Linked DNA regions of Homo sapiens. The protein of the gene in region 2 interacts with the protein of the main gene of each other region in a pairwise test. Each region holds a gene or a part of one and is shown on either strand. Other genes may lie near its edges.

Region 1 (3,821 bases), on a different chromosome or scaffold from region 2:
TCACAACCTGTAATCCCAGCACTTTGGGAGGCCGAGACAGGCGGATCACGAGGTCAGGAGATCGAGACCATCCTGGCTAAGATGGCAAAACCCCATCTCTACTAAAAATACGAAAAGATTAGCCAGGCATGGTGGCGAGCATCTGTAGTCCCAGCTACTTGGGAGGCTGAGGCAGGAGAATGGCATGAAGCCGGGAGGTGGAGCTTGCGGTGAGCAGAGATGGTGCCACTGCACTCCAGCCTGGGCAACAGAGCAAGACTCCGTCTCAAAAAAAAAAAAAGTCTTACAACCCTAAAAAGTTAAATTAATAAATGTATAAACTTAACCCAGTTATGCTGGAGGTTGCAATTTTTGTTAAAAATCAGACCTTGGCGATGACCTTGAGCAGCGGGACATAAATAATTCCCGCAAGCTTAGTGTTCCAATAATGGAACACTAGGCATAAATGGGTTAATTTTCAGATGAAGTCTGCTGAACCCAAAAATATGAAAATGATTTCCCAAGGATTGTAAAAATAACTGCTAAGGAGATGCTGCTAACTTGATCACAAAAGCAAGATGAGTAGAAGGCTTTCTTGCACTGTGCGTGTCTCTTGTATGTGTAAAAGTGTGTATGCATGTCGACTGCATGTCGAGTGTGCAGTGCAGAGATAAGAGAGGAAATGGGATAAAGTTCAGTCTATAGCATACTATGCTATTAGACTGCATTAAACTGCTACAAAGTTTCTTTACTCCAAAAAGTAGACAGGTTAACTGTTGGAAACTCTGTAATTATTAGATAAAATTAACAGTACTTTACAATTATATGTATGTCACTTTACAGTTTACAAAGTTATTAAGTAGATATTCAATTTGATGCCCTGAAATAAATTTAACTTCTTTGCCCTCCCTTCTCCCCTCCATCAAGGACAGAGTAAGGAACACTTAATCAGGAAAGGCAATATAATTGCATCAATCTGTACAGAACCACAAAGAATAAAGGGTAGGAAGGTAGGACCTTGAAGAGGGCCACAGGGACTTCAAGGAAGGAGGAAACCAGAATGTTAAACATGAGGGAAGCCCAGGGTTCACAGGAGAGTTAGGCACCATACGGGGCAGGTTGTGTTCGCCACATAAAAGGAGGGGCACACAGCATAAGTTTCACATTCTAAAATAATATGAAAAGACCATAACTGAAGAGCTGAATTTGGAATTTCTGGTTTTTCACAATACAAGTAGATGATGACCACCAACCATGGTTTCTGAATGAACTGGGTTCAAAACATATCTGGTTGCAACAGAGGGCTTCCTTGGACCCTAACATTTGAAATTAAACAGAGGTAATTTGAGGAGCTGCGATTTTACACAGTGGTGGCATCCTGGGGAGCTTCTATTCCATCAGTCAATTTTAATATCTCACAATCGTGGAAAAGGAGTTTCCGAGCAGGGACGAGCAATATCGATGGGAAGCCGATACTTGGGCCATCTCTTGGAGATTCCTGCTGTAAGGACGGCAAGTGTTTCTCCAGAGAAAGCACTTGCCTGGGTATGACTCAGGGCCGGGCAGGAATTCACACTATGAATCCGGGTGGTGGGAAGGCGGAGAAGTATGCCTACAAAGATTAAAGAGCCAGGAATGGAAAACACACTAAAAACCGTCCCAGTGGGCAGCCTGCCTCCCCACAAATAAGAAGACCTTGAATCCTGAGCATAATCAGGGAGACAAAGCAATGCCCTGGATGCCACCAGCATAGACAAAGCCAACGGAAAAAAAAAAAAGAAAAGAAAATGCATGATTCAGTATTTACACACACAAAAAGAAGAGTGCAGAAGCAAGCAAGAAACTAAAGAAAAAGGAGGCTGGGTGCGGTGGCTCATGCCTGTAATTCCAGCACTTTGGGAGGCCAAGGAAGGTGGATCACTTGAGGTCAAGAGTTCGAGATCAGCCTGACCAGCATGGTGAAACCCCGTCTCTACTAAAAATACAAAATTAGGCGGGCGTGGTGGCCCATGCCTGTAATCCCAGCTACTTGGGAGGCTGAGGCAGGAGAATCGCTTGAACCTGGAAGGCAGAGGTTGTAGTGAGTTGAGATTGCACCACTGCACTCCAGCCTGGGCAACAAGAGTGAAACTCCATCTAAAAATAAAATAAAATAAAAAATATAATATAATATAAAAAATAAACTAAAGAAAAAGGAACAATGCTCACACCAAGGGAGCTGCCGACAAACCCCACTGATGCTTCCCAGCAGCACTACAGCTTGGCTAATCCCAGCTTCCCACTGTACCTTTCAAAATGACAAGGGAGAGACATGAGTTAAGCATTGACCCCACCTCAGCATGGGGTAAACATCTGAGATTTCTGCTGCCCTGGGTGTGGTTACGTGGGATTACCATTCTGGGTGACTCACTGAAATGTACTCACAGTGAGTCATGCCTTCAAATGACATCTCAAGTTCTGCCTGCTTGGAGATACATCTGGGGATCTTAAGGGGTGAGGGACTACTCAACAAGAAGGAATTTAGCCTGTCTTTTTAAATAAACGGCATTTCTTTTTCCTAGAAAAATGGGAAATTCTTCAATTCTCTAATACAGGGACACTGAGATAACAAAGAGGAAAGTGTCTGGTTGGAGGTTGGGAGGCCACCCTGGGGTCTCTCCTACAAAAATGGAAAAGAAAAGAACGGTGAGAAATCAAGCAAAGCACAAGAAAGTTTCCCTTTGCTAAAAGGGAAAAGATGCCCCACAATGGCCATAAACATGAACTGGGGATAAGGAGGAGAATGTCTCTTCTTGGCACCCCCAAACAAACGTTAATTACCCCTCCCGGAGAAGACGATGTGAAAGATAAGGATTCAGAGGTTCTAAGTCCTGGAATCTAAGCCACACTCTACAGACCTTCTCAGAGACCTTATACTTAGGAAGAAACAAGAAAGTAAAGAAATTCAAATAGATAAACCGAATAATAAGGAAGTCCTTACCCAGTGAGACCACGTTCCCATAATTCTCTAACATCACTTCTCTGTAGAGGTCCCTCTGAACAGGGTCCAGGTATCCCCATTCCTCTCGAGTAAGGTGCACAGCCACATCCTCGAATGTCACAAACTCCTGAAATAACACATCCTGGCTGCTCTGAGGAATGAGAACACTGTAGCACCATGGCCAGAGAATGAAGATCATAGAGAGGGTATCCACTGTGTACTTACGTTGAGGAGGAGGGAGAACAGATTAGAACCTACGGAATAAAGCCCATAACCCTTAAACATCTAATAAGCACCCATCACACAACCATGGACAAAGAGAAAACAGAGTTTGCTCATGGCACTGGGGAGATGGGAAGTTGGTTTATGTGAAGTCCAGGTCTCCGAAGAGGATCAATTCCCAAACTGGAGTCTGCTATTGAAAAAAATTCCAGGCAAGGTCTACAGATGGGATGAGAGAGAGGCCACACTCCATCAGTAGCAATAGTCCCTGAGGAAAAGCAGAGGGTTCCTCAGCTCACCTGGTACCTGGCTGTCAAGAGCGCAGCTGCCTGGTCTCCTGGGCTTCCCTCACGGGGAAGAGCAGGCACCTGAGGAACAGGTGGAGCTGAGGGAGGAGAAAGGAGTGAAGAGTGAGAGCAGCCCTTTCCCAGGGCTCCCTTTCAGAGGAGGCCTCTCCAGCCCAAGGGGTGTCAGCAGGACCCTCCTCAATACTCTAGTAAAACCAATGAACATTTTTCAGGTATTGGGTGTGTCTACTCTGCTTCGTCTCAGTACTTGCATGCCTTATGCGTGTTTTGACCTGTGATACAGGATTTTCTTAGGAAAGCTTGTATTTCACTTTATCTTCATCACATGACAG
Region 2 (3,821 bases):
TTTAGGTTTCAGCTTGTATGGTTGTGTAGGAGAGCTGGTTACCTCTTCCAAGGGAATTCCTAGCTCAGCTTTCAGCCGTCTCTGTGCTGCTCGCCTCACTCCAAGGGCGTCACTTTCCTCAAGCTCGGCTGGATTGCTTAATGGATGACTACAACACGTATTCGTAAAACAACCTGGAAAATGGTAATACAGAGACAGATCAACTTTTCTTCAAAGTAGGTCTGAAAGATCAAGAAAAAGTTTTATAAGTAACTGAAAAATGAAATGATTTTTAAGGATTTTAAAATCAGTTATAATGGGCTATCAGTAATTATTTTAAGGATTTTAAAATTGGTTATAATGGGCTATCAGTAATTATTTTAAGGATTTTAAAATTGGTTATAATGGGCTATCAGTAATTATGTTGTGAAACAGACTACATTTGTAGGTAGGTTCCTTATTAATACTTCTTTAACCAAAAAAGATCAAAGTGTAGATAATACAGATTAAAGATAAATATGTAAATTATACATATTGCCCAATTGCTTACTAGTTCTTATTTTTTCTTGCTGTTGTATTAGGTTGCACTCATTGTGTAAACTCACTTTATGCAGAATATAAAATTATGCCATTCACAGGATTTCCCTTTGTGACCTTGGCTCCAAGAATTCAGAATGATAAAAAGTCAAATTAATGTACAAACACAATATTGTACATTAAAAGTGTACTAACCTGGAAAGGTAATCTTAGCATCTGATCTTTGCTGTAGCAGAAGCTTATTTTCGGTGTTGAATAAGAAGACACTAAAAGCTCGATGCAATAATCCTGAAAGCAAAAGAAATAACAATTATTTTAGCCTTAAGTACCAGTTATTTGCCAAATTCTCTCCCTGCAGTTCAGAATAACATTAGTAACTTGCTGCTGCTTTTGCTTTTTCCCATGGTTTATCCACATGCATAGTCTCTGCATGGCTATGGTGAGGAAGAGCTCTGCACTGGGCAAGGAAGTTGGCCGTCGAGTGAAGGAAATGGTGATGCTGGTGGCCCCTTTCCGGCAGTCAAGTTCCCTATCAAGGACATTCAGTTCTCGGAAAGTGGTGAAGGCACATGCTTCCCTGCATGGTGCCCGCCTCTCTCCACTCTCTAGAAATATTAGAGGCTAGGCTGCTGCTGTATGTCAGGGCTAGTCCCTCTTCTATGAATCCAGAATAACTCTGAAGAAGCCGAGTAACAGGCATGAAGTGAAGAGAAATCGCTGTAACAGGAAGACAGCAAAGCAGATGCTAATGACCACACTATTTAACGAACTGGAACCAACGAGAAAATACGGTATTACTGAAGACTGCACTTCCTTGAACAGAGTGCTCTTCTCAGCAAATCGGAAATGCCTACACAAATCGCTTTACAAGAAAGACTGTTTCAAAGCAGCACCTTTCTCAATGTTCTCGTTCAGGTGACAATTCTTCTTGGTCTCAGCTCCAATTTTATTGTCATTTTCATCAATAAGGATACACATCTCTGCCAGGAGTTGAACCTGTTGCTTGTCGAGGTGGTTAGTGTTTATTTCAGGCATCATTACAAAATGTCTGATCTGTTCTAGAACACTAATATTAAAGGAAAAGAGAAAGAAAGGCCATCATATATTTTTCTGAATGTCATATAAACACAGGTTAATAATGATGCTGCTTCCCCATCTGCAGTTGTACCACTCTGCATCCCCACAGGGACCCCAAGAACGCTGCCAGCCGGCTGCTCAGCACTATCTGGGTCATCATTTCTCCTACAGGTTTCACAGCTGGCCTTTTATCACAGTCATGCTCCTGAAGGCCAAGCTCAACGTTCCGCTCTAAATTCTTGACCTCTGAGATCCTCTGCAGCACTTGATACTCAATCCTTTTTCCAGTGTACTTTTCTTCTCTGGTTTTTGGCCCCAACCTAACTTTTCATCCTGCTTTTCTACACCAGCTTCTGTAATCTCTAGAATGTGCTCCCATTGCCATCCTGAATTGTTTTTCCCACTGCCTGTCTCTGCATAGTTGCTCAAGATTGCCACAGGCCAATCTTGGTTGAAATCCATTTTTTCAAGGCACAACTCGTGCCAGACATTCAATAACCTTTCTACCAATGTCACAGTAAGACTTAATCCAGTTTTTCTCAACCCAAGCTCCTGGGTTATCAGAAAAATTATTTGTATGAGTTTTGTCAATTTCCCCCAGGACAGTACTTAGCTGATATCATTCTAGATAAACAGGAGAAGACTTAATTCGTTATATTCAATAGATGCTTTAAGGCAGTGCTTGGCAAGTTTTTTCTGTGAAGGGCCAGAGAGTATGAACTCTGCCTCTGTAACACTAAAATAGTCACAGGCAATAGGTGAACTGGGCAGTATGTAAACTGAGTGTGGGTGCATGCCAATATTTATGGACACTGAATTACATTTAATTTTCATGTGTCACAAAATATTTTGATTCTTCTCCATCCGTTTAAATATGAGAAAAACACTCAGCTCACAGGACGTAACAACAGGCAGCAGGCCAGATTTGGCCTATAGGCCATAGTTGGCCCATTCCTACCTTAGTGCATCAAACATTAATTTTCTGAACCCCCATTTATCCCTCCCATGTGATTACAACGTAAAGCACTTATTAGGGTACTTTCAGTATTCTGACTCACACTTTTACATATCTGTATCCAGCAGCGTCTAAGCTTTCTAATCTTTGTATCCTTCAGGGCACCTTTACATAGTCTGACCTTGAAGTTTTTTATTCCCTTTTTTCTTCTCCTTTATTTCTGAATGAATAATAATTTTTGTTTTCTGATTTTTCTACCCAATATATTTTGAAGATCCCATGTGCTCTACTTTCTATGTGACTCTATTTCAAATACATAGATTTTACTGAAATACTTTTTTGTTTCTGAGAGGGAGTCTCGTTTTGTTGCCCAGGCTGGAATGCAATGGTGCAATCTCAGCTCACTACAACCCCCACCTCCTGGGTTCAAGTGATTCTCCTGCTTTGACCTCCCAAGTAGCTGGGACTACAGGCGTGCACCACCACGCCAGGCTAATTTTTGTATTTTTAGTAGAGACGAAGTCTTGCCATGCTGGCCATGCTGATCTCGAACTCCTAACCTCAGGAGATCTGCCTGCTTTGGCCTCCCAAAGTGTTGAGATTACAGGAGTGAGCCACCACACGGGGACCACTGAAATACTTTCAACAGAGTTCAAGCATACTGCAGAATGTACACAAAGTGTTTAAACAGCTACTTAATACAAAGTTCTAGACCCACATAGGGTCTGGGTGTGTGTGTGTGTGTGTGTGTGTGTGTGAATGCGTGTGTCAGGAGTCAGTGATGATGGAGATATTGATATCTAATACAAAAAATCTGAAATAAGGTTAATGATTAAAACAAATCAAGAGGGAAAATAATGTGAAAAGGAAGTCAACTTCAGAGTTAGCCTCAATTTTAGAAAGATTTCCAACTTCTATAGGCTAGTTTTATATACAGTCATCCTTTGGTATATATGGGAGTTAGTTCCAGGACCTCCCACAGCTACCAAAATTTGAGGATGCTGAAGTTTCAGATATAAAATGGCATAATATTTGCAGATCACCTGTGTATATCCACTGTGTACATACATGTGTCACATGATGGTGTTTCGGTACACTACAGACTGCATATACTACAGTGGTTCCATAAAATTATAACAGAACTGACATATTCCTATTGCTAATGATGTTGTAGCCATTGTAACATCGGAGCACAACACATCACCTTTTCTATGTTTAGATACACAAATACTTGCTGTTGTGTTACAACTGCCCACATTATTCAGCACAGTCA

Evidence for each region.
Region 1: the proteins of IDI1 (region 2) and ZNF655 interact in binary tests that used the Homo sapiens proteins (3 or more experiments, as listed by UniProt).

The regions. Positions count from the first base shown.
Region 1 is NC_000007.14:99,561,633-99,565,453, reverse strand, and holds part of ZNF655 (zinc finger protein 655), read right to left. Parts: intron 3,567-3,821; coding exon of another isoform or gene 3,481-3,566; exon of another isoform or gene 3,159-3,480; coding exon of another isoform or gene 2,960-3,158; intron 1,592-2,959; coding exon of another isoform or gene 1,395-1,591; exon of another isoform or gene 749-1,394; intron 1-748. UniProt on the Homo sapiens protein: Probable transcription factor.
Region 2 is NC_000010.11:1,042,590-1,046,410, forward strand, and holds part of IDI1 (isopentenyl-diphosphate Delta-isomerase 1), read right to left. Parts: intron 1,613-3,821; exon of another isoform or gene 1,583-1,612; coding exon 1,410-1,582; exon of another isoform or gene 921-1,409; coding exon of another isoform or gene 899-920; intron 805-898; coding exon 712-804; intron 174-711; coding exon 43-173; intron 1-42. UniProt on the Homo sapiens protein: Catalyzes the 1,3-allylic rearrangement of the homoallylic substrate isopentenyl (IPP) to its highly electrophilic allylic isomer, dimethylallyl diphosphate (DMAPP).